Homo sapiens: one gene and its partners. The protein of the gene in region 1 interacts with the protein of each later gene in a pairwise test. Each region holds a gene or a part of one and is shown in the gene's direction. Other genes may lie near its edges. The genes, in order: CFP, FHL5, PRKAB2, LCE1A, GNE, BANF2 and KCTD9.

The links.
Region 2: the proteins of CFP (region 1) and FHL5 interact in binary tests that used the Homo sapiens proteins (3 or more experiments, as listed by UniProt).
Region 3: the proteins of CFP (region 1) and PRKAB2 interact in binary tests that used the Homo sapiens proteins (3 or more experiments, as listed by UniProt).
Region 4: the proteins of CFP (region 1) and LCE1A interact in binary tests that used the Homo sapiens proteins (3 or more experiments, as listed by UniProt).
Region 5: the proteins of CFP (region 1) and GNE interact in binary tests that used the Homo sapiens proteins (3 or more experiments, as listed by UniProt).
Region 6: the proteins of CFP (region 1) and BANF2 interact in binary tests that used the Homo sapiens proteins (3 or more experiments, as listed by UniProt).
Region 7: the proteins of CFP (region 1) and KCTD9 interact in binary tests that used the Homo sapiens proteins (3 or more experiments, as listed by UniProt).

Annotation. Positions count from the first base shown.
Region 1 is NC_000023.11:47,622,782-47,626,930, reverse strand, and holds the end of CFP (properdin precursor), read left to right. Parts: coding exon 1-158; intron 159-411; coding exon 412-603; intron 604-761; coding exon 762-873; intron 874-2,490; coding exon 2,491-2,656; 3' UTR 2,657-3,649; downstream 3,650-4,149. UniProt on the Homo sapiens protein: A positive regulator of the alternate pathway (AP) of complement. It binds to and stabilizes the C3- and C5-convertase enzyme complexes. Inhibits CFI-CFH mediated degradation of Complement C3 beta chain (C3b).
Region 2 is NC_000006.12:96,615,128-96,619,126, forward strand, and holds the end of FHL5 (four and a half LIM domains protein 5), read left to right. Parts: intron 1-481; coding exon 482-645; 3' UTR 646-3,499; downstream 3,500-3,999. UniProt on the Homo sapiens protein: May be involved in the regulation of spermatogenesis. Stimulates CREM transcriptional activity in a phosphorylation-independent manner.
Region 3 is NC_000001.11:147,158,971-147,162,470, reverse strand, and holds part of PRKAB2 (5'-AMP-activated protein kinase subunit beta-2), read left to right. Parts: coding exon 1-31; intron 32-690; coding exon 691-759; intron 760-1,637; coding exon of another isoform or gene 1,638-1,674; intron 1,675-2,828; coding exon 2,829-2,906; 3' UTR 2,907-3,500. UniProt on the Homo sapiens protein: Non-catalytic subunit of AMP-activated protein kinase (AMPK), an energy sensor protein kinase that plays a key role in regulating cellular energy metabolism.
Region 4 is NC_000001.11:152,826,174-152,828,597, forward strand, and holds LCE1A (late cornified envelope protein 1A), read left to right. Parts: upstream 1-1,299; coding exon 1,300-1,632; 3' UTR 1,633-1,924; downstream 1,925-2,424. UniProt on the Homo sapiens protein: Precursors of the cornified envelope of the stratum corneum.
Region 5 is NC_000009.12:36,241,449-36,244,948, reverse strand, and holds part of GNE (bifunctional UDP-N-acetylglucosamine 2-epimerase/N-acetylmannosamine kinase), read left to right. Parts: intron 1-3,500. UniProt on the Homo sapiens protein: Bifunctional enzyme that possesses both UDP-N-acetylglucosamine 2-epimerase and N-acetylmannosamine kinase activities, and serves as the initiator of the biosynthetic pathway leading to the production of N-acetylneuraminic acid (NeuAc), a critical precursor in the synthesis of sialic acids.
Region 6 is NC_000020.11:17,730,966-17,733,668, forward strand, and holds part of BANF2 (barrier-to-autointegration factor-like protein), read left to right. Parts: intron 1-2,703. UniProt on the Homo sapiens protein: May play a role in BANF1 regulation and influence tissue-specific roles of BANF1.
Region 7 is NC_000008.11:25,434,434-25,437,933, reverse strand, and holds part of KCTD9 (BTB/POZ domain-containing protein KCTD9), read left to right. Parts: intron 1-1,448; coding exon 1,449-1,516; intron 1,517-1,603; coding exon 1,604-1,699; intron 1,700-2,421; coding exon 2,422-2,571; intron 2,572-3,500. UniProt on the Homo sapiens protein: Substrate-specific adapter of a BCR (BTB-CUL3-RBX1) E3 ubiquitin-protein ligase complex, which mediates the ubiquitination of target proteins, leading to their degradation by the proteasome.

The DNA of each region.
Region 1 (4,149 bases):
GCCTTGGGGCCCTGTGAGCCCCTGCCCTGTGACCTGTGGCCTGGGCCAGACCATGGAACAACGGACGTGCAATCACCCTGTGCCCCAGCATGGGGGCCCCTTCTGTGCTGGCGATGCCACCCGGACCCACATCTGCAACACAGCTGTGCCCTGCCCTGGTCAGCATCTCAGGGTTCACGATTTGCATGCCTAAGTCCCCCTTGCCCTTCTCTGCTGCCCAGCTCCTGCTGCTGAGGCCTTGTTCCTGTCTCTGATTCCTCCTTTCCTGGCCCTGATACCTTGTTTCCACCCCTGGTCCCCCATTCACACATCTGATCACCTCTACTCCCTCCTACCGCCCTCATTCCTTCCTCTGAACCCCCTTGCTGATTCCCTGCTTTGGTCCAATCCCCTGTTGCCCTGTCTCTGCAGTGGATGGGGAGTGGGACTCGTGGGGGGAGTGGAGCCCCTGTATCCGACGGAACATGAAGTCCATCAGCTGTCAAGAAATCCCGGGCCAGCAGTCACGCGGGAGGACCTGCAGGGGCCGCAAGTTTGACGGACATCGATGTGCCGGGCAACAGCAGGATATCCGGCACTGCTACAGCATCCAGCACTGCCCCTGTGAGTGTCCCACAGACTGTGCTCTGAGGGTGGGGTGGCCCATGCAGGATAAGGGGTTTCCAACTCTCTGCTGTGGACCTCACGTCTCTGCAGCCTCCCTCTCACTTTCCCACCAAGACCTCCAGTTCTGACTCTGTGACCCCTACCCCTCATTGCAGTGAAAGGATCATGGTCAGAGTGGAGTACCTGGGGGCTGTGCATGCCCCCCTGTGGACCTAATCCTACCCGTGCCCGCCAGCGCCTCTGCACACCCTTGCTCCCCAAGTACCCGTGAGTGAGAGGGCAAAGTATGCCTGGGAGGGGGTCATTATATTACAGGCGGGAGAGTCGGCTACCCCAGGAAACCAGGGTTTCCACTGCTGAATCTAAGGTATCTGCCTTGCCGAGTGCCACCTCCCAGCTGCAGGAAGTGGGGAGAAACTAAGAAGATGAGAAAGAAGTTCTTGGAGGATAATTCGTAGCCTCTGTGCCCCTCAGTCACCTGTTCAGTCACTCATCCACTTAGTCCTTCATGTGTCATTGACTCCGACCTTCAGTTACCCATGCTTTTAGCTGCCATCACTCAGGCCTCCATTCACTGCCTGCCTCCCACAGTCACTCATGCCTCCATCCACTTTGTCAGCATCTCACTGAGCCAAGGCACTCCAAGGCTTTTTCAGCAACAGTTGCAGATACACACAGCCCAGATCCTGTGGATCCTCCAAGGGACCCAGCTGAGCAAGCCCCTGACAGGAGGCATATGAGGAACAGCTGGTGCATGCAACAGGTGCTGCCACCTCAACCTAGGTCCAGGAAGCTGACTGGGCCTCCCAGGGCAGGTAGGGGTTGGGAAAGGCATTCCTGGCATCAAGACTGTGAACGGAGCCTTGGAGCTAGGTGATTAGCCGCTATAAGTGTTTCCAGGTGCCAGAGGGGCCCAGGTGTTAGAGAGGGTTAAAATGTTCATCCCTTTTCTTCCTTCCACATACATCAAGCTACTAGATTAAGTGAACTATTCCCAGCTCGTGGAAGGGCTGCCATCTGGGAAGGGATCTCCCGGCTGAGGGGGTTAGAGTGGGGCCTGAAGATTAGAGGTGTTGAATGGAGGCACAAAGGACTTGAGTGAGCGAGAGACTGAGTGGAGGAAGAAGCAATTGAGAGAACTGGGATGGGAGTGAATGGAGGGCTTTCCTAGTGGGACAAATAACCCAGGTAAAGACCTTTCTGGACAGGGACTGAGCTTGAATAAAGTGGAGGAGACAGAGAGAGAGATTGGCTTGGGGCAGGGATTTGGGCCCAACAATAAGGCCTTGAATGTCAGGACAAGGCATTGGGTTTTTTCCTGGAGGCAGTGGAAAGAGATATAAAGGGTATATATTTCGGAGGTAAAAGAAAGTAGCTCATGCCAACAAGTAACATTCACCAGCATTTATTGAGCACTTGCTGTGTGCCAGGCACTGCTCTGAGCACTTTACCTGAATTAACTCATTTATCCTCATTCAACCCCGTGAGGTGAGTATTAATATTACTATTCCTACCATTCTCATTTTGCAGATGAGGGAAACCGAGGCACAGAGAAGCTAAAGAAATTGCCCAATATCCTATAGCTAAAAAGTAGTGTTGGGAGGCCAGGCACAGTGGCTCACGCCTGTAATCCCAGCAACACTTTGGGAGGCTGAGGCAGGAGCATCACTTGAGCCCAGGAGATTGAGGCTGCAGTGAGCTATGATTGTGCCACTGCACTGCAGCCTGGGCAACAGAGTGAGACCCTGCCTCAAAAAAAAAAAAGGAAAAAAAAAAAAAAAAAAAGTAGCCCTCGGCATATAGCAGGCACTCAATAAGAATTGAATGCATTCTTGCCTTCCCTGAGATTCTCCCTTCCGTTCCTCCCCACCCCTAATGCCTCAGGCCCACCGTTTCCATGGTCGAAGGTCAGGGCGAGAAGAACGTGACCTTCTGGGGGAGACCGCTGCCACGGTGTGAGGAGCTACAAGGGCAGAAGCTGGTGGTGGAGGAGAAACGACCATGTCTACACGTGCCTGCTTGCAAAGACCCTGAGGAAGAGGAACTCTAACACTTCTCTCCTCCACTCTGAGCCCCCTGACCTTCCAAACCTCAATAAACTAGCCTCTTCGAGTTCGTCTACGATTCCTTAAAGGAGGAAAAACAACCTATCCCCTTCCCCAAAAGTAGGGTGATAGCATCTCATAGGGCAAACAGCACAGCACGGGCCAAGACACAGCAGCCTGTTGCGGAAAACAGTATTTTCCACTGTGGTCGCAGGTTGGCAGGAGTGAAAGCGAGTGTGCAGTCCCAGCCTCTCCCCGCCGCTGCCATAACCCCAATGTCTGGGCCCTGCGCAGCCCCCTTAGAGCCTCAGGGCCGCCCGGCACGTTCCTCTGCAGAGCTCCGCGTTACGGGTTTCCTGATTGGCTACTTGTCCTGGCAGGCACTTCTTGATTGGCCGGCGTGCTTGTTCGTTGTCTCCCCGTCTCCTGGACCTCCCTAGATTCCCACCAGCCGGAACCCTGGAGGAGCCTCTGCCGGCCGACTCCGACTCCGCGTCAGTCGAGGATGAACGGCAGAGGCGTGGCCGAGGCTGGCACCCTGCCGCCCGAGCACCTGCACCCACCCACTCCCGACAGCCCAGCTCCAATGCCACAATTACCAGCGACAAATAGCTCGGCGAGGCGGGGGGCGGGCCGAGGAAGTGCCTGTGTTGCGCTCTGAGCTGAGGAGGGGCAAAGAAGCTAGAGTCAGTATCCGCCCGGAGGAGCCCCCAAGACAAATCCAGACACTTTCCTCTGGTAATTTGTTCATTCATTCAACACTTATTAGCGCCTGCTGTATGCTAAAGCTGAGTCTGAGCATCTAGGGTGGAGGAGGGCTGGTAGAAAGAGGACATCTGAGTGAGGGAACAGACTCAGAAGGTATTCCTTTCGTGTGAACATCTATTCAACACTTAACGCCTACTGTATACTAACAATAGTGCTGGACATCACGGAGAATAGAGAAGAAGAGGAATCAGAGCGTTACGTGTCTCCGCAGTAAAGGGAACAAAGCCAGACACCAGTGCTTTTAGCATTTGCTCATTCATTTACCACTTACTGAATGCCGGGCCCCTTGTGAAGAGACGCATCATAAGAATCATAATAATCATGGTAATAGCTACTACTTAGAAAGTACTTACTGTGTGCTTAGTAGTGTCTTAAGGCTTTCCATAGCATGAACTCATTTCGTCCACAGCAAACCCATGTGGGTAAGTATTATTATCCCCATTTTACAAAGGAAACACGCACAGAAAGGTAGTAGGCTGGACATTTTTGAAGCATCATGGATTGTGATGAGGTCTTAAATGTCAAGAGTGCTGTGGGTGGAGGGGACCCGTCTGTGTGGGAAGGTTCGGGTAGGAGGTTTGTGACATGCACACCCAGAGTATATTGGTACACTTACTTGACTTCTCTGGTTCGTTTTCCCCTTATTCAAGTGGACCAGTCAATGAGTTGAAGTGAAGATGAAGTTGATGAGTACTTACTTGGTCATCTTGGGAAGACTGAGCCAAAGTGA
Region 2 (3,999 bases), on another chromosome or scaffold:
ACTCATTACAACATTGGACATCAAACTAGGAAGCATACATTTATTTCCTTTTATCTTCATTTTGCAGCTAAGAAAACTTAAAGTCATATAGAGAAAAAGGGGAAATGTATTCATACTTAGATATCTCTGACTTCACAACCTATACCTTCTTTCCACTATGCTACACTGTATTGTCTTATCTGGCTTAGACAACCTTATCTGTTTCCAAAAATACCTGACTTGCATATTAGCATTCTGCCTTCTTCTGTTGATTATGGCAGAATTTGGCTGTGAATCTGGTTGGGTGGCATAGGTGTAACTTTCCTACAGTGGATAGTTCCAGATGGACACAGGGCCAGGAAGCAGCATTCTTTTTTGGGTTATTTGCCTCTGCGTTGTTTTGCTCATAGCTCTATCTCCAGTTCCTAGAGGAGCATCTGCTAGAATGCTCAATCTGTTCCTTGAAAGGATAGATTAATCTTTTTCTCCAATTCCTTTACAGGTCTCACAGGTGCCAAGTTTATCTGCTTTCAAGACAGCCAGTGGCATAGCGAATGCTTTAACTGCGGGAAATGCTCTGTCTCCTTGGTGGGTAAAGGCTTCCTGACCCAGAACAAGGAAATCTTCTGCCAAAAATGTGGCTCCGGAATGGACACTGACATCTAGGAGACAGTCCTTGCCCACCTAAAATCCATTTTGCCTTCGTTGTCACTAAAGCCAGAACTCAGTTGCGGTCTTATTTTTGACTTAAGTTTTAGAAAATATTCATGTAGTTTAGAGTGGAAAAGTTTTTGCACACATTTTGATCGAACTATATTCTAAGCACACAAAAAGCACAGTAGAACAGAAATGAATATATGCTAAATCACAAAGACAACTCTCCTTGCAAAATACTGCACTCTGCTGTTAGAAGCAGAGGAAAATATCTCTTCATAATCAAATATATGACATATACCTAGGAGCTGTGGATGTAATTACTGAAGAATGAGGTTTTTCATACCTGAAGAGTAAAAGAAAAACTAAGAGATCAAACTGAGAGGTATACATGAGGCTAGTGTTTGCATTCCTGGTTATATGTAATGTGATAAATTAGCTATGAATGGTAAAAGAACAAAACTGATCAGAGTAAATTCATTAGCAATTATCACATTTAAGAATTGTTATCATTTAAAAATCATCCTTTTTTTCACACATACTGACTGTAGAATTAAAAAACAAAGCTACAATTTGCCCTCATACACACTGCTTCCACAGCTTGCTAGTTCTGTGTTTACTCAATGGAATATGAGAACTGAGGACATTATGGCTCTCATAATCTGCATAGGTATAAAGAGGATCATTTCTACCTAGGGATAGCCAAAGCATGGGTTTCAACACGTTTTGTATTAAATATATTTTCAAAGTCCACAGTGATTTTTCTAAACGCTTACAGATTCCATGAAATAAAAGTCTATTCTTTCAAGTGGAGCTAACCAGGATAATCTTTGTCCCCAAAGGCAAACCTTTAAAATAAATAGATCATTAAATCTTCACTTGTGGAAATGAGTTTTAGGGAAGGGATTGAGTCTTGGAACATGACTTTCATCCAGATATCTAACGACATAATAGAATGCATAATTAGCTCTGTGCCTCATGCATTATTGCCTTCTAAAATTACATAAATGATTAATGGGCAGACATAAAAGTGGGCTTTAAAGAAATCTAGTAATAATAAAAGCTGAAAAAGAATAATTCACTGCTGATAATTCAGAACCTGCAAAGCAGCACAATAGAGTAATGTGGGCTGTAGGCGAGCCCTCCCCACTCTTCCCCCACACCTGTGCCACACCCCCCTTACCCCAAGCCAGTTGTGCCCCCAGTTTCAATCTCCTGCATAACCAGGAGGTGCACTCCTAACCCTAAGCAACTGTCCTATAAGTCAGTCAGTGTTTATTGATCACACAGGAAGTAAAGAGCCTTAGTGAGAAGTCCATCACCAGGTTTATCTTTATACCAGACTTTAACTGATCATGACCCTATCTTGCTACCCCTGGATATTTTCCACATTACTTGGGACAAATGGAAAGCAACCTCTGCTCTCCATGATCTGTTTTCACATTGGTTATAGCATCTCTTGGATGGAGTAGAGGGAGGTCAGGAGAAGAAGCCCACATAGATATATAACTGTCTTCTCTCAGATTACACATTATAGCATTAAAGGTTTTGATTAAAATCTAATTGTAAGATACTGCTGATTACAATTACCAAAATAGCATCACAGGAGATTCAATTAAAATTGTTATGGAAATAATTTTTGAAATAGTTTAAAATGCAAGAATATTCAGCGATGTTAATAATTTAGAGATACTAATAAGTGTTCTGCTAGATAGACTATTTGAAAACTATAAATGTATTTTTGGATTAACAATGCCAAGGTATTTTTTCATATTCACATTGAAAAATACAGGCAAAACTATCAATATTTTTTCTGCATTATATGAAATTTCACAGGTAGAACTAAATCTATGATATAGAAAATAATAGCACATTACACATAGAGAAAACCAAGCCACTTAGGTTTAGATAGATATATAACATGTAACATCTTCTCTGTTAACCAATTATAGATACATATACAACATGTAATGTTTTCTTAGTTAAACAATTGGAAATGTTTAGGCATTTTACTGTGTGGGGGCAGTGAGTATGCACATGATCAGACTTGTATTCTAGCTTTACAATTAAAATTCACAGAATCATTTCCTAAAGATTTTATTATCCTTTCATAAGTATAAATATATATACTTTTACATATAAATAGTTCTGCATTTAGAAGGTATCCTACACATCAAACATCCATTAAACATGTACTATGCCAAAAGTTAGAGCTTATACTGTTGTGGGTCTGGAGTTGTAGGAGGATGGATCATGGTATGGAAATGCAGAAGTGCCTGATGCAAAGATCCTTGCCTGCAGGTTAAACAAAGCACCACATATGTAGACATAGCACACATATGCAAAACAACTAAGAAAAAGACCTCCTTAGGTCTTTGCGTAACACACACAAAGATAAATGTAAAAATTATATAGTTGATTTATATGGTTTATGTAACAAAGAGAAAAACTCCTTAATGGACTTATCCAAAGATGAAATGGACTGACTCAGGAAACAGTGGGCTCCCAGTAATTCAAAGGTGACATCTGCATGGGCAGGAAAGAAGTTAAAAGCAAATCCCATGTGCCAATAACAACCAGATGGCTTGGAAGTAGCAGAGACTGCCGAAGAGCAGGAGAAAATAAGATTGCTAAAAGAGAAAGAGTCAGAGGAAGGGAGAATATTAACTCTTAGGATAAAAAGTGACATAACCGGCCATAGAAAGTTACCAACTGTTCATAAGTAAAGGAAGAAAATAATTATTGTAGTGTTTGAGGAAAATTATGCTTTTGATCCTTTGTGGAATAGAACCAAAGAAAGCAAGGTTCCAAGGATTAAGTTTCTTACTGAAGGAATAAGTTTGGTTAATGGCTACAAAAGTGAAAAGAAAGAGGAAGAAGGCATTGAAGGCCACGAGTTACATTTGTTGGCAAAGATGAGTATGCAAGTCAACAAGTCAAAATATTTTATTTTGTCATGTTGGGGATTAAAGATGACAAAAGAAGCAAAAATGTATTTCTGCTTCAATAATAATGACTAGGAAGCCCAAGGGTTCAATTTTAACTTGGCATTATAAAAGTGTTAAATTGGGACAAACTAGCTCCACTGGTTAAGTAAAATGTGGTTATGTTACAATCCAGGCTTCAAAGCTTACATCGTTGCTATAACTTAAAAAAAAGAAACACTAGATTGTTCATTAGAGTAAAATATTGGCCTACCATTATGAAAAATGCATAACACTAATCACAAATGGTTAAAAAAAACTGCCAAATTTAATATCACAAATGAAAAGTCAATCCAAAAACACATTTCATGTTAGCAATACCATTTTTGAATTTAAGAAAAAAATAACTTTTAATCTACTTGGCATATTGTTAATTGTCTGT
Region 3 (3,500 bases), on another chromosome or scaffold:
AGTTATTCTTAACAAAGACACTAATATTTCTGTGAGTATCCTGAGTATTACTGGGGCATCTGGGGGTGTCTAGGACCATTTGGACCAAAGTTCAGTAATCCTAGAGGTTAGGATTACTACAGAGGTGTGTTGAGATTATAAGTCATACACATACCAATAACATTACAGATTTCCTTTTTCCAGTGGTGAGTCACAGCTTTTTCAGGTACTGATATAAAAATTCATAGTTGTCTCCTCATCCTAATAAAATCAGGATCAGAGCTATGGACTTCTTTTGAGCACAACATAAAGGAGTAGTTATCATTTGGGGGTGTACAAAAGAACTATGAAAGCTTTTTTGTATATAATTCATGTCTCTATTCAATCTACTTGATTCCTACTATGATTGTTTTTGCCTTGTAACACAACTCTTCCTTGTGTGTTGTGGGCAAGATTTTTGTTTTAGCTCTCTTAAGGAAGATTAGTAGATGCTGAGGCATGAGATTTCTGCCCTGGACTGATAATTTTTCTAATTTTCTGTAATAGGATTGTATTATTGATACATACTAGAGTGGGTGCATTATTGAAAAGAGATAGCGCATTCTAGTTTAAATTTCTCAAAGAGCTCTGAGGAAGAGTAAGCTGTTTGGTTTGTCTGTGCATTAATTTCATTTAGTAATTTTTTTAGTAATTTTTTTCTCTTTCTCTTAGTGTGACCCAGCCTTACTCCCTGAGCCCAACCATGTTATGCTGAACCATCTCTATGCATTGTCCATTAAGGTAAGTGGTGGCCCTGGCTCTTCACAGAGCTCCCTGGAATGAGAGGTCAAGGGTAACATACGTTCTCAGTGGTTACTTTCTCTGCTATTTCATTGAAGCTGAAGCTGGCAGTAATGATCAAATTATAGAAGAACTCTCTTTTTTTTAACTACTAGGTTGTTTGTTTTAAAATCTCAGTCTCTGTGTTCTGGCTGGCTGAATTGCCCTCTGATAGGACTTTTTTGCTGCCCAGTTATTTTTTGGGTGACTAGAATCTTTACACTAACTGTTTACTTAAGTTTGTGTTCATAGCATAGGATTTCTTCTGCAGAAAAAGCAGGTTTAGCTTCCAGTTCAAAGAATGCTTGAATGTGATATTAAGGCTTTCATTTTTTGAAGGTGGAATTGAGCTACTTTCAGGTGCCTCATTCATATATACTCAGGTGCTTGCATCTCTCCTATACACTAGTTAAAGGAGAGATGTGACCAGATTTGCCCTGTCCCGTCAACTCTAGAGTCCTCCTTGGTTTTTCTGCTGCTTTAGAGTCTGGGTTGGAAATAGCCATTCTGTTCTGTCTTGTTATGTCTTTGTGGTTTGGCTATTGGAATAAAGTTATATAGCTCTGCAGTTATCAAACCAGGCTGATTATCATTAGAGTCTCCTGGAGAAGATTGTAAAAATACAGATTCAGCAGCTCCATTCCTAGAGATTCTGAATAAGTGCATCTAGGATGGGCCCTATAATTTTTTTAAGCTGCTTTTACTTGGATATATAGCTGGATTCGGGAAATCACTGATATAGCTAACAAACTATGTGGTACAATATAACACTTAAAAATATATTATTGAATTTAATTTTTATAATAACGTTGTAAGTATTTTTAACTCCTGTTTTATAGATAAAGAAACTAAGGCTCAGAGAAGGTCAAATTGCCAGTAAGTACCAGAGACAGGACTGCTGAGGTCCAGTCCTCCTATGCTGACTTCATATTCTTTCCTATATTATCATTATGCCAGGTCTTTCCAAGTAGGTTTTTCTCAGGTATTCCTCATTTCCACAAAACCTGTGGAAGTGTAAAAGTGAATTGTTTACCTGCCTTGCTTCTGTCGTATTTAGGCTTTGTGTCAGCATGACTCTGGAGTGTTAACCCGAGAAGCATTCATGGTGGATAATACAGTACGGGGGAAGGTAGAAGGATACACTTGTTCTTAATCGGATTTGCTTGGGTTCTTTGGGATCTGATGGATTTTGCCTCCTGTAACTGCTCCTTGGATGTCATTTAATTTGCCTAGGCTTGCCATCTCCTCCTGTGGTACATCTGTAGTCTACAACACAGCCTGGGAAATGGTACCTCTTGCTGTCTTCTTACTGGTTCTGACTCAGGTGAAGGTGTTTGATTATTGTGGCTTAGCTTGGTTCTGACCCATTCCTGATTCTCTCATATTGTTTAGGCAGTTTGGAATTGATCCATTGGATTGGGTGTCTTTCTGAAGAGGATTTTGACATCTACTTTGTTCAAGGATAGAGAGGGATTCCTAGGTTCCCTCTAAATCAGAGAGATCTTTTGGAAGTCATCCCTGGTTTTAAATGAAAATTAGACCTGCTTTGGGACTTGGAAATAGTTTTTCAGAAGGATTGTTTCTTTTTTTCCTCATTGTCTTTAAGACTTTCTTCTAGAAATGGATGCCAGAATATTTTGTTCTTTTTTGTTTTTCTTGCTAGTTTTAGGCCCAACATTAGAATTTAAAGTAGGGAAGGGAGCAAGGTAGGAGACTATTATTTCTTCAGCCCTTTTATGTGTCAGAAACTGTGTCAGATATTCTCATGTAATCATCAGAGCAACCTTAATGGTAGGTGTTATCTTTTGTAATGATGAGATAAAAAGACTTGGACACACTAAGTAGATTACCCAAGGCCACAAGTAGAATGATGATAGGAGTCAGAATTGGAACTAAAACTTATTTGACCTCCTGCTCTTATATCAAACTATCTCTGTTAAAAGTGAGTGACTGTGAAGGACTGATGACTGGGAAGAGCTACCTACTGTCTGAAGTAATGAATTAGCTGCGTATGTTTCTTTTCCTTGCAGGACAGTGTGATGGTCCTTAGCGCAACCCATCGCTACAAGAAGAAGTATGTTACTACTCTGCTATACAAGCCCATTTGAAGGGATCCCTTCTTGCCTCTAAGGATTCAGGAGAAGCATCTCCCTTGCATTTCTGGACTGAACCAGTCTTACCTGAGACTGGAAGGCTGATTTGCTTTGAGGCTGATATGTGTGTTTCAGAGCCTCTGAGTAGGATGCTCTGCTTTTGCATTTGATTGCAGATGAGAGCTTTATGAGTTCACGGAATTTATTTTAAGAAAAAAAAATATACATATGAGAAGAAGGTAAATGGAAGCCTCCTAGCCCCAGCTAGAAGTATTGTTTCTGCCTGTGGGTTTTCACCAAGACCTGTTTGGGGGCGCTGCAGGAATAACTATATAGGAAGATTTTTCCTAAAATGAAAGAACAGCAAACTCTTAGGATCCTTGTTGGGTGGAGATTCTATCACTGCTACCTTGGCTCTCCAAGGAATGGGCTTGTGCTAGACCGCTGCCCTACTTAACAGCTGCCTCATTGCAAGGGCAGTTTTTCTTGCATGGGTTCTCTATATTCCCAGAGTATGTGGCACAATCTGTGTTGTTTATATGATACCAGATGCCCCACAAGAACCCTTATTCCTCTCATTTCACATTCTTCCTTTAATAGCCTCCTTCA
Region 4 (2,424 bases), on another chromosome or scaffold:
AGCTGGATTAGAAGAGGTGGAGAATGTCTAGAAATTCTGATGGAGTTCAAGCTGTGGGGCAGGAGAGATGGGAAGCACCTGGATGATTTGTATGTCTATGCTTCATGCTCTAATCCAAATTAGTTCTGTATTTTTTTTAGTGTCTCCCATTCCAGATAAGTTAAAACAAACTTTCCTTTCAGAGAGTAGATCTTAGCAACTCAACTGTGTCTCTTCCCCGAAGCCTGTACTGGGATTATAGTGGTTCTTAAATAATGGAGACCGGAGACCAGAGGAAGCATATTTGGAGCTTGATAAACACAGAGATACATGGCCCTTACACCTTCATCAGGAGTGAGTTAGTCATGAGTGGTGCCTGGGCATCTGTATATCAGAAGCTCCAGTGTTGAACAGCAAGTAACAAGTTGAAATTTATGGTTGCCAGGGTGGCAGATAGAGGAGTCTGTGGGTTCTAAGAGGGAGCTTCACTAGGCATGGATTCACCAGACCGGGAAATCTAGGGTCACGTGTCAGCTTGCTACAATTAGCTTTAGACCTCATTTCTCCATTTATAATATGATTTGGGATAGCCAGCTCATATGATGACCCTTTGCAATTCTGACTATAATATATTGTGTGTTTGTGTCAACCAAATACAGCCATCTGGGAAGCTCCTACAAAAGGGAATCTTTATTTTTATTTTATTATTTTATTTCATTTATTTTTGAGACAAAGTGTCATTCTATTGCCCAGACTGCAGTGCAGTGGCATGACCTTGGCTCCCTGCAGCATTGGCCTCCTGGGCTCAAACGATCCTCCAGCCTCAGCCTCCTAAGTAGTTGGGACTACAGGTGCGTGCCACCATACCCAGCTAATTTTTTTTTAGAGATAGGGTCTTCTTGCTTATTTTTTAAAAAGCAGAACTGCAGGTTTAAACTGGCTCCTAGATTGGACATTTTCAGAATTCTAAGTGGTGCAGAAGGGTAGACTTCAGTCAGATTCTGTGAATGTCAGATTGCCTTTTCCACTTAAAGGACATTAATTTTGGGCAAGTTTGTTAATACAGATGTCCTCATTATATTGCTGGGTTAAAATAAGATAGTCTATTTCTATTTTATAAAAACATCCTGATGATCCTATAACACATTGTGAAAGCATCTGACAAACAATTTTAGAGATAATTTCTCTCTGACTTATTTGAACAGGTTTTAAAAATGTAGCAAAAATAAATGATGGTAAAAAGGCAATAAGGGTGGCCTCTGTGCCTGGCTGTAACTTGCTGTTTGACTCTCCTTCAGCTCCTGAACACCCACCGCCGAGATGTCCTGCCAGCAGAGCCAGCAGCAGTGCCAGCCCCCTCCCAAGTGCACCCCCAAGTGCCCTCCCAAGTGCCCCACTCCTAAGTGCCCCCCAAAGTGTCCCCCTAAGTGCCCTCCAGTCTCTTCCTGCTGCAGTGTCAGCTCCGGAGGCTGCTGTGGCTCCAGCTCTGGGGGCGGCTGCAGCTCTGGGGGAGGTGGCTGCTGCCTGAGCCACCACAGGCGCCACAGGTCCCACCGTCACAGACTCCAGAGCTCTGGCTGCTGCAGCCAGCCCTCGGGAGGCTCCAGCTGCTGTGGAGGGGACAGCGGCCAGCACTCTGGAGGCTGCTGCTGAAGCGGACTCTGCACCTAGAAGAGCAGACTCGGGTGAAATGAGTGATCAAACATTTCCTCCTCACCTGTCTCCTCCTGGGCCTGCAAGAGTGGCTGAGATGCCCGCGTGAAGGCTCTGAGCTCTGGCCTAGAGGATCCCTCTGCCCTGGGATCCAGAAACTTGATTCTTCTCCCACAAACCTATCTGCTGCCCCTGACACCAACTGTGTTGTCTACTCTGGGATCCCAAGCCACAAACTCACTCTCCAGCTCATTTCCTGCAGCCTCAAGTGAAACAATAAAGCAAAAGATCTTCTTGCCACTTATTGTGGACTGTTCCTTGCCTGTTTGTGTCTCCAATATTTTTTTCACTGCTCTCTACTTTCCTGCTGCCTGGAAGCTTTGGAAATCAAGATGTGCTAGTCGCATGGCTAAAGATATGGAGGAGGGGAGAGAAAAACTTCTATGGCTCCTACTTTGACACCTTATGTCAGAGGAATCACTACGTGGCTCTGCCTGTGCCCATCTTCCTGGTGTTTCAGGAACACAGAGCCTTGTGCTTTGGACTTCTTCAGGGTCCTACTTGGTCTCCAGGGTGTGGCAGGGAGACAGATATGCACCCCATCCTTTCATCCATCTACCCCTCCTCCCCTTTACAATACTGCCCACTCACTCCCAAATTTCATTCTCTTTCAGTAAAAAATATTAGAAAATTATATGTAAACTTCCTGCAAACAGACCATGAATCTTAGACTATTCTAACTACAAGTATGCATAGAACATGTGGTAAATATGATCTGAAAAAACTTAAAAA
Region 5 (3,500 bases), on another chromosome or scaffold:
TTTTTTTTTGAGATGGAGTCTTACTCTGTTGCCTAGCCTGTAGTGCAGTGGCTCAGTCTCGGCTCACTGCAACCTCCACTTCCCGGGTTCAAGCGATTCTCCTGCCTCAGCCTCCTGAGTAGCTGGGGTTACAGGCGCACACCACCACACCTGGCTAATTTTTTTTTGTATTTTTAGTAGAGACGGGGTTTCACTATGTTGGTCAGGCTGGTCTCAAACTCCTGACCTCATAATCCGCCCACCTCGGCCTCCCAAAGTGCTGAGATTACAGGCATGAGCCACCGCGCCTGGCTCATTTTTATTTTTAATGCTTTTCTTATAGAATTGTTGGAATACTCAGATTATGAATGTTGGAAGCAGTAAGCCATAAGTACTTATTAATATAAGGGATTATGATGATTATTAAAAAGCAAAAGTCATAGTTGTAGCCTTAGAGTATATCTTTGTAAATAAGCCCTATGTTCCAAAATTTTTATTGTTCAGTGCTCTAGCTTCCTAGAAATTATCTTTTGCTAATCAGAGGTAAAAAAATCCAAGTTTACAAACAGAATGTCAGTTGGTTAATTTATAGTAAGAGTACTACCTAGGGGACAAATTAGGACTAATAATCTATTTAGGACCTTTCATTTCTAAGAGGCAGATCTATTGAATTATAAAATTAATGAACAGAAAATTGATTTGGTTGGGTCAGGTATGGTGGCTCACCCTGTAATCCCAGCACTTTGGGAGGCTGAAGTGGGAGTATTGCTTGAGCCTAGGAGTTACAAGGCCAGCCTGGGCAACATAGCAAGACGCTGTCTCTACAAAAAATAAGAAAATTAGCTGGGCGTGGTGCTGTGTGCATGTAGTCCTAGTTACCTGGGAGGCTGGGATGGGAGGGTCACTTGAGCCTGAGTAGTTGAGGCTACAGTGATCTGTGATTACACTGCTGCACTCTAGCCTGGGTGACAGAGTAAGACCCTGTCTCAAACAAAACAAAACAAAAAAAAACAAAAAACAATAACAAAAAAAAAACACAGAAAGAAAAAGAAAATTGAATAAGCAAAGAGATTTTGTATATTTTTAATCTAGATTACATTACATCAGGAAAGGAATTGGGCTTTCCTGCTATATAACGTACTCCATTCTACATATTTCTGTTGTTCAGTCTGGAGTGCAGTGGTGCAGTCTTGTCCTCCTGGGCTCAAGTGATCCTACCACCTCAGCCTCCTGAGTAGCTGGGACTACAGGCATGTACCACCATGCCCAGCTAATTTTTAAAATTTTTTTGTAGAGATGGGGTCTCACTATTTTGCCCAGGCTAGTCATGAATTCCTAGGCTCAAGCAATCCTCCTGCCTCGGCCTCCCAAACTGCTGGGTTTATAGGCATGAGCCACCGCACCTGGCCCATTCTAAATATTTCTTATGCTTGGACAGATTTGTAATTATCAAGGGATCGTCTAGATAATGCTGGTGGAACAACCTTCTGTCTCTTCAGTCTCTCCTTTTAGTATGCTTCCGATGAAACACTCTTGGATTCTGTTCTAATTATACCATTAGCTCTCTAGGTATTCTGGAAAACTTGTATCACTGAAAAACTTGTAATGAATAGAAAATAATAATGTGCCAGATGTGGTGGCACATGCCTGTAATCTCTGTACTTTGAGAGGCCAAAGTGGGCAGATCACTTGAGCCTAGGGGTTTGAGAACAGCCTGGGCAACGTGGTGAAACTCTGTCTTTACAAAAAATACAAAAATCAGCCGGGTGTGATGGTGTGTGCCTGTAGTCCCAGCTACTCCGGAGGCTGAAGTGGGAGGATTGCTTGAGTCTGGGAGTTCAAGACTGAAGTGAGCCATGATTGTGCCACTGCACTCCAGCCTCGGTGACAGAATAAGACCCTGTCTCAAAAAAACAAAACACTAGTTTTGGCCAGGTGCCAGTGGCTCATGCCTGTGACCCTAGCACTTTGGGAGGCCCAGGCAGGTGGATCACTTGAGGTCAGGAGTTGGAGACCAGCCTGGCCAACATGGTGAAACCCCATTTCTAGTAAAAATACAAAAATTAGCCAGGTGTGCTGGCACATGCCTGTACTCCCAGCTACTCAGGAGGCTGAGGCAGGAGAATTGCTTGAACCCAGGGAGGTTGCTGTGAGCCGAGATTGCACCACTGCACTCCACACTCCAGCCTGGGTGAAGAAGCGAGACTCCATCTCAAAAAAAAAAAAAAAAAAAAAAACAAGCATAAAACCCAGGCCAGATGCGGTGGCTCACACCTGTAATCCCAGCACTTTGGGAGGCCACGGCGGGCAGATCATGAGGTCAAGAGATTGAGACCATCCTGGCCAACATGGTGAAACCCCATCTCTACTAAAAATACAAAAATTAGCTGAGCATGGTGGCGCACACCTGTAGTCCCAGGTACTTGGGAGGCTGAGGCAGAAGAATTGCATGAAACCCAGGAGGCGGAGGCTGCAGTGAGCCGAGATCGCGCCACTGCACTCCAATCTGGCAACAGAGCGAGACTCCGTCTCAAAACAAAAAACAGCAAATAACCATTAGAAAGCAGAATGTAGCAAAATTGAATTGTACTTGTAGGGCTTAAAGTCCTATTTGGGACAATTTAAGCAGTTCTTTATGGAAAGAAGGACAACAGAACAGCTAAAATTGCTTTTTTTTTTTTTGGTCTTTAAACCAGTGAAAAAGAAAACTCAAGACAATGAGGCAGAGCCATCCACCACTGGGCAGTAATACATTTTATATAAAACCTGTTCCTGCTTCTTGATATGCAACTTCTTTTTTTTTTTCTTTTTTTTGAGACAGAGTCTTGCTCTGTTGCCAAGGCTGGAGTTCTGTCACCTAGGCTGGAGTGCATTAGCGCAGTCTCGACTCACTGCAACCTCTGCCTCCCAGGTTTAAGCAATACTCCTGCCTCAGCCTCCTGAGTAGCTGGGACTACAGGCGCACACCACCACACCTGGCTAATTTTTGTATTTTTAGTAGAGATGGGGCTTCATCATGTTCGCCAAGTTCGTCTCGAACTCCTGACCTCAGGTGATCCGCCCTCCTCAGCCCTCCAAACTGCTGGGATTATAGGCATGAGCTACCGCACCTGGCCTTAATATGGAACTTCTCATGCTATCACTCTGCTTACAGGAAGATAGGGTTGGGTAGGCCATATATAACATTGCAGCTTTGTAACCAGAGTGTTAATATATAACAATCTTAATTTTAAAATTAGCAATGTTAAAAAGGCATGTTAAATTCCTAATAATGAAAGGCATATCACAGTAAATATAGGACTTTACAACAGAAAACAAAATGCCTTTATGGAAAGGATTTATGAAAGGGCTGAGGCTGCTGAATTATGGATAGATACAAAGACTGGTAATAATATCAGAAGTGCCAGGTGGAGAAGCAGGTGCAAACTTTGTATGAAATGTATTCTTGCCAGGGATGAGTTGCTCTGGCTCATTGTCTTGCGTTTTACTTTTCCCTGGTCTAAAAAGACTTCTAGTTTTTG
Region 6 (2,703 bases), on another chromosome or scaffold:
GAGGATTCACACCAAAGACACAGAGTTTAAGCCGGGCGTGGTAGCTCCTGCCTGTAATCCCAGAACTTTGGGAAGATCACTTGAGGTCAGGAGTTCAAGACCAGCCTGGCCAACATGGTGAAATCCCGTCTGTATAGAAAATACAAAATTAGCCACGCATGGTGGTGCATGCCTGTAATCCCAGCTACTTGGGAGGCTGAGGCAGGAGAATCACTTGAACCTGGAAGGTGGAGGTTGCAGTGAGCCGCTATCGTGCCACTGCACTCCAACCTGGGCTATAGAGTGAGACTCTGTCTCAAAATAAAAGAAGAAGAAAAAAAAACACACAAGAGTTTAAACCTGAAATGACATGAAGACTTAGGCGACTGGCGAGAGAGAATCAAAGAAAGTTGTGTCACTGCACCATGGAGTCTGGTGGTGATTGAAGTCCGTTCAGCACAGGTGCTCAGGACCTGCGGACTTGGGCAGAGGGCATTGTAAGCAGCTAGAGAACAAGAGAGGGCAGAGACAGCTTATCTCTGCTTGACAAGGCCCAGCATTATGGTGAGTACTGAGCATTTTAATAAGTGTGGATCTCAGCCAGCTATTTAATTTTTAGGGCCCACTGTAAAATGAAAATGCAAGACCTCTAGTTCAAATTTATTAGGGGGTGTAGTGGCACGTGCTTGTAGTTCCAGCTACTCGGGAGGCTGAGGTGGGAGGATCATTTGAGCCCAGGAATTTATGGTTGCCAAGAGCTACTGCATGCTACTGAACTCTAGCCTGTGTGACGGAATGAGATCCCGTCTCTTAGGAAAAAAAAAAAAAAAAAAAAAAGTAGGCCAGGCGTGATGGCTCACTCCTGTAATCCCAGCACTTTGGGAGGCCGAGGCGGGCAGATCACGAGGTCAGGGGATCGAGACCATCCTGGCTAACTTGGTGAAACCCTGTCTCTACTGAAAATACAAAAAATTATCCAAGCGTGGTGGCACGCACCCGTAGTCCCACCTACTCGGGAGGCTGAGGCAGGAGAATCGCTTGAACCTGGGATGCAGAGGTTGCAGTGAGCCAAGACCGTGCCACTGCACTCCATCCTGGGCAACAGAGGGAGACGTCGTCAAAAAAAAAAAAGAAAAAAAGGAAAACTAATAAAAAAATAAAAGAAATTTAGTAAGAATTTCCAGATGACAAGAGCCAAGTGTTAAACCAGCTCAGGGTGCTCTTAGCACCAGGCGCTGTGTGAAAACATGGCTCAGATGCAAGGGAACCCAACCCTGGCATAGGCTCAAACTGCTGCTGTTTAGCAAGAAGTGGGCACCGCAAACTGGAGGGTGATTCCTCCCCTGCTTGGGGGCCGGCCCCTGGAGGAACCTCACTGTTTGCACTTGGAGTTTAGGGGCATTCTGCCCTTGAGCCCCCATCCTTTTGTTTGTTTGTTTCGAGACAGAGTCTCACTCTGTTGCCCAGGCTGGAGTGCAGTGGCATAATCTCAGCTCATGCAATCTCCACCTCCTGGGTTCTCCTGCCTCAGCCTCCCAAGTAGCTGGGATTACACGCGGCTGCCACCATACCAGGCTAATTTTTGTATTTTTAGTAGAGATGGGGTTTCACTATGTTGGCCAGGCTGGTCTCGAACTCCTGACCTCAGATGATCTGCCCGCTCAGCCTCCCAAAGTGCTGGGATTACAGGAGTGAGCCACCACACCTGGCCGAGCCCCCCCTCTTACAGCTGCAGGACGGAATGTAATTCCCTGGCTTGGCCATGGCCACGGCCACTGTCCAGAGTGGTAGGAGGACAGGGACAGCTGCTCAGGGTTTCTGTGTTTCTGTGTCACCCCTCCCACCCCAGTAGCTGAATTCTGGGGAGCTCTGGCCCAAGGAGGGAAAGGGGCAGCATCTTTTCTCCTTGATTAGGGGGCTTTCTGGAGCCGGGGGAGAAACCAAGCGGGCATCTGGCAGGGCCATGATGGGAGCCCACGACTCCAGCTTCCCTGGGGAGCAGGGTGAAGTGCTCAGGGAAGAAGGGAGAAGGGAAGCCAACTTTCCCTCCTGGAAGATGCCACAGGGAGACAGGAGGGAAAACTGAGGAGGGAGTGTCAGGTTGCCACTTGGCTCCAGAGGCTGCAAGACGGGGCTTCCTGTAGCATTCCTGGAAAGTTTGCCCAGGGTCCACATGTTCCCAGGCATCCTGGCTGCTGAGCCTGTGGGTATGTGGAGGCTCTCACTAACAGGCCAGCTGATGCTGGCAGTGCCACTTCTAAAACGGGCAGGGGATGCATTAGCCTCCAGGCCAGACTGTGGACAGTTGGGAAGTGCAGGAATAGTGCAGAGGAAAACAGGAGACTTAGTACCTCCACCTGGGGAATGGGAGGGGTGAGTACATGTGAGGATCAGGTGGATTAAAACGTGTCAGGTGTCTAGCAGCACGTGGCCGACAGAAGTGCTAAAAAGTGCTACTTAGCATTAACTACTATTATTAAGTATTATCATGAACATTTCTCTTTATGGAGAAAGCTTTGTGTAAGCCACTTACTATTAATTATTGTTAATTATTATTAATATTCTCTCTCCTTGGACACAGCTCTATGTCTCTCGTTTCTGTTACCTTCACCTTGGCACCTCCCACACCTACGTCTACTGGCTCAATTAACACTTAATAAATGTTATTTTTCAAAAACATTAATTTAAATACATCTCAGTAAAATCCATTCAAAATGGGAGGAT
Region 7 (3,500 bases), on another chromosome or scaffold:
TTTCACTAACACCAAAAAGTAGTGAGTGGCAGAGCTGGGATTCAAATCCAGATTTTTTTTTTTTTTTTTTTTTTTTTTTTTTTTTTGAGACAGGGTCTCGCTCTGTCACCCAGGCTGGAGTGCAATGGTGTGATCTCTGCTCACTGCAACCTATGCCTCCTGGGTTCAAGTGATTCTCCTGCCTCAACTTCCCAAGTAGATGGGATTACAGGCACACACCATGATGCCCAGCTAATATTTGTATTTTTTTTGTTTTGAGATGGAGTCTTGCTGTGTCACCCAGGCTGGAGTGCAGTGGCGCGATCTCGGCTCACTGTAAGGTCCGCCTCCTGGATTCACGCCATTCTCCTGCCTCAGCTTCCCGAGTAGCTGGGACTACAGGCACCTGCCACCACGCCTGGCTAATTTTTTGTATTTTTAGTAGAGACAGGGTTTCACCATGTGTTGGCCAGGCTGGTCTCGAACTCCTGACCTCAAGTGATCTACCCACCTCAGCCTCCCAAAGTGCTGGGATTACAGGTGTGAGCCCGGCCTGTCTTTTGTATTTCTATGGCTTCTCTGGATGTTTTAAAGGTTTAATTCTAAACCTAGAATTGGAAACGTATCCTGGCTGCATTCCCTAAGAGTTCTGCTTTACTTAGACCTTGGCAAATTGAGAGCGTGGCCCACAAGAACCTCTTTTATAATATGTTGAGTTTCCACCAGGGATATATATCCGAACGGAATGGCATAATCTTTGGATGCCTCTTGAAGGGGAAATGTGGACCCTGTATGCCAGAGTGGTAGCCCGATGCTGTACCTTGGATGACGTTTGTTTTACAATTGGATTGTTGACCATAGAGTTTGGTCTTCACAGAAAAGATTGTATTATTCTTCCCAAATAACTGCTTCTGGTTTTCTGTATCTACTTACCCTTATTAGCTTGTAAGTGTTTGAAGGGAGGGATTATGTCTGATACTTTCTTTGTAATTCCAGAGTTCTAAGTAGTTTTTTACTGAGTCAACAGCCAACTGATTGAGGTCTTCTCATTTGAAAGATAATGGAACCCAAATGTATTCCCACACATTCTGATGATGTTTATTAACAGATTAGAATAAGTAAATATACCAAGTCATGTAAAGGATGTACATTTTTTTTTACCAAGTTAAAGTAAATGATAAATGAAAGCTCTTTTAGTATTTACAAATATTTTAAAATTTATTCTCCTATAAGACAGATTTCTGAATTATACTTTTGACTTTTTTGTACTTTTTAAACTTTTATTCATTTCTATCATTTTCTGATTCAGTATGTAAAAGATACTTGTGGCAAACCTGTTCAGATCTGCTCCATTTAAAAAGGCAATTAAATGTTAAGATTATGTGAACTAATCGTATTTTAGTAAATTCAAAATGAATGTAATACATTCACTAAATTAGGTTGTTTCAGAATTATTTTTGTTCTGATAGGTGTGTTAGAAGAAGCAAGATTTTTTGGTATTGACTCATTGATTGAACACCTAGAAGTGGCAATAAAGGTAAGCCTGTTTTTACATTAGCCAGTGTTACATTCATTGTAGCTATCTCCCAAAAGACTCCACTAATTTCTTAATGTCTTTTTTAAGAATTCTCAACCACCGGAGGATCATTCACCAATATCCCGAAAGGAATTTGTCCGATTTTTGCTAGCAACTCCAACCAAGTCAGAACTGCGATGCCAGGTAATTAGCAGGCTTTTACATCAATTATTTCTATCAGCAAATCTATGAATAAAATTTTACATTCTTCTAGTGTTTTGGGATTATCTTGCTTTGTTTTTCTTTTACATGCAAGATCTAATTTAATTATGAGTCATAGCATTGATTTAGTTCTGAAATGGTTAACGAAAAAGAGATGCAATAATAGCCTTTTTAAATTGTCTAATTATACCTCATGCAACAGTTTATGAATAATGCATAGAAATTGCAGCAGTTTTTTAAAAGTCAGTATTTGTACATTTGCAATATATGGGCTGATCAGTGGCAGGTACTTTACTTATGTGTACTATAGCATTTCAAATTGTAAAGACCACAGTACTCATTTTTGCCTAATAAACTGTTTTGAATTACTGAATTAATAAAATAATTTAAATATAATTAGGTTTAAATACTTATTAGCAGGTATAGGACTAACAGGGATCCCTCTTTAGAAGCTTCTACACAGAAATGAATTATAGCCGGGCTATATTCTAATGTATATATTGATAGAGTTTCTTTTATGAGGAACCTATTTAAGGACACTTCTTTTATGTATCTAAGTTCCATTTTATCATGTTCTGTAATAAACTCCAAGTGACTGAACTGCCAATTGCTTCTAAAAAAAACTTGGTGGTTAGCTATAGTAATTAAATTTAATACAAACAGACGATTTAGTTATGGTGACAATTTGTGCTTTTTTATTTCAGGGTTTGAACTTCAGTGGTGCTGATCTTTCTCGTTTGGACCTTCGATACATTAACTTCAAAATGGCCAATTTAAGCCGCTGTAATCTTGCACATGCAAATCTTTGCTGTGCAAATCTTGAACGAGCTGATCTCTCTGGATCAGTGCTTGACGTAAGTATCATTTTAGGCTACAAGAGAAAATTAAATGTTTAGTCTATTGAACAGTCTCAAAGAGCCTTTGAGACAGGAATTATAACTATCTTTTACTGGAGCTTTTACTTGAAAACAGATAATTTATTATGTTGATATAAGACTAAAGGTCTGAAAGTGAAATGAATTTGGTTTTACAGGTTTGATATCCTTTATTAAACATAGACTTGAAAGGTTTAGTAACTAATAAGAAATTAAATCTTGGAATTAGTTCTTGATCTCCTCAATATACTGTACTTTATTTATCAGGACTCATATTTTCAGCTAATTGTAAAGGTAAAGCTGAAAGGAACCTTGAAATCTATTCAGCCTCATTTCTGGAATGGGAAAATGTTACTGCTCAAGAAGTATTTGACAGATATTTTGAAATAAACATGGTATGCATCAGTTTGTGGAAGTTAACATCTCAGTGGCGTTTTCCCTCTCTCTACATATATGTGTATATTTATATATATGTATATGTATGTATTTATAACAGTTATCTGTGTTTATTTGAAGTTAGAGGATATATGCAGACCAACAATGAAATCTATTAATTTTTAACAACTTTAAGTTCCTTACCACCAAGGCCCGTGTCTGTATGTCTTTTGAATTAATACCATCTTGCTTTTGGTAGTCATTTATTGAATTACTCTAATTTGGGTTTTACTCATTAGCTGCAGCTTATTTTTCCATGAAGCTGTGTATCAGGGCGAGTAACAAAATCTACCAAATATGCATTTTAGTTACTTTCACTGTCCTTTATTCTGTCTTATCATGAAGGGTCAGGTTAGTAGCAAAACAGGAAAAAGACTAACATCAAAAAAACGTTTGAAGGACCTAATCTTTAAATAGTGAAATGTCGAGAGGCATCTTTGTTTGTGTTAAGGACAAAAAAAAAAAGATGTTTG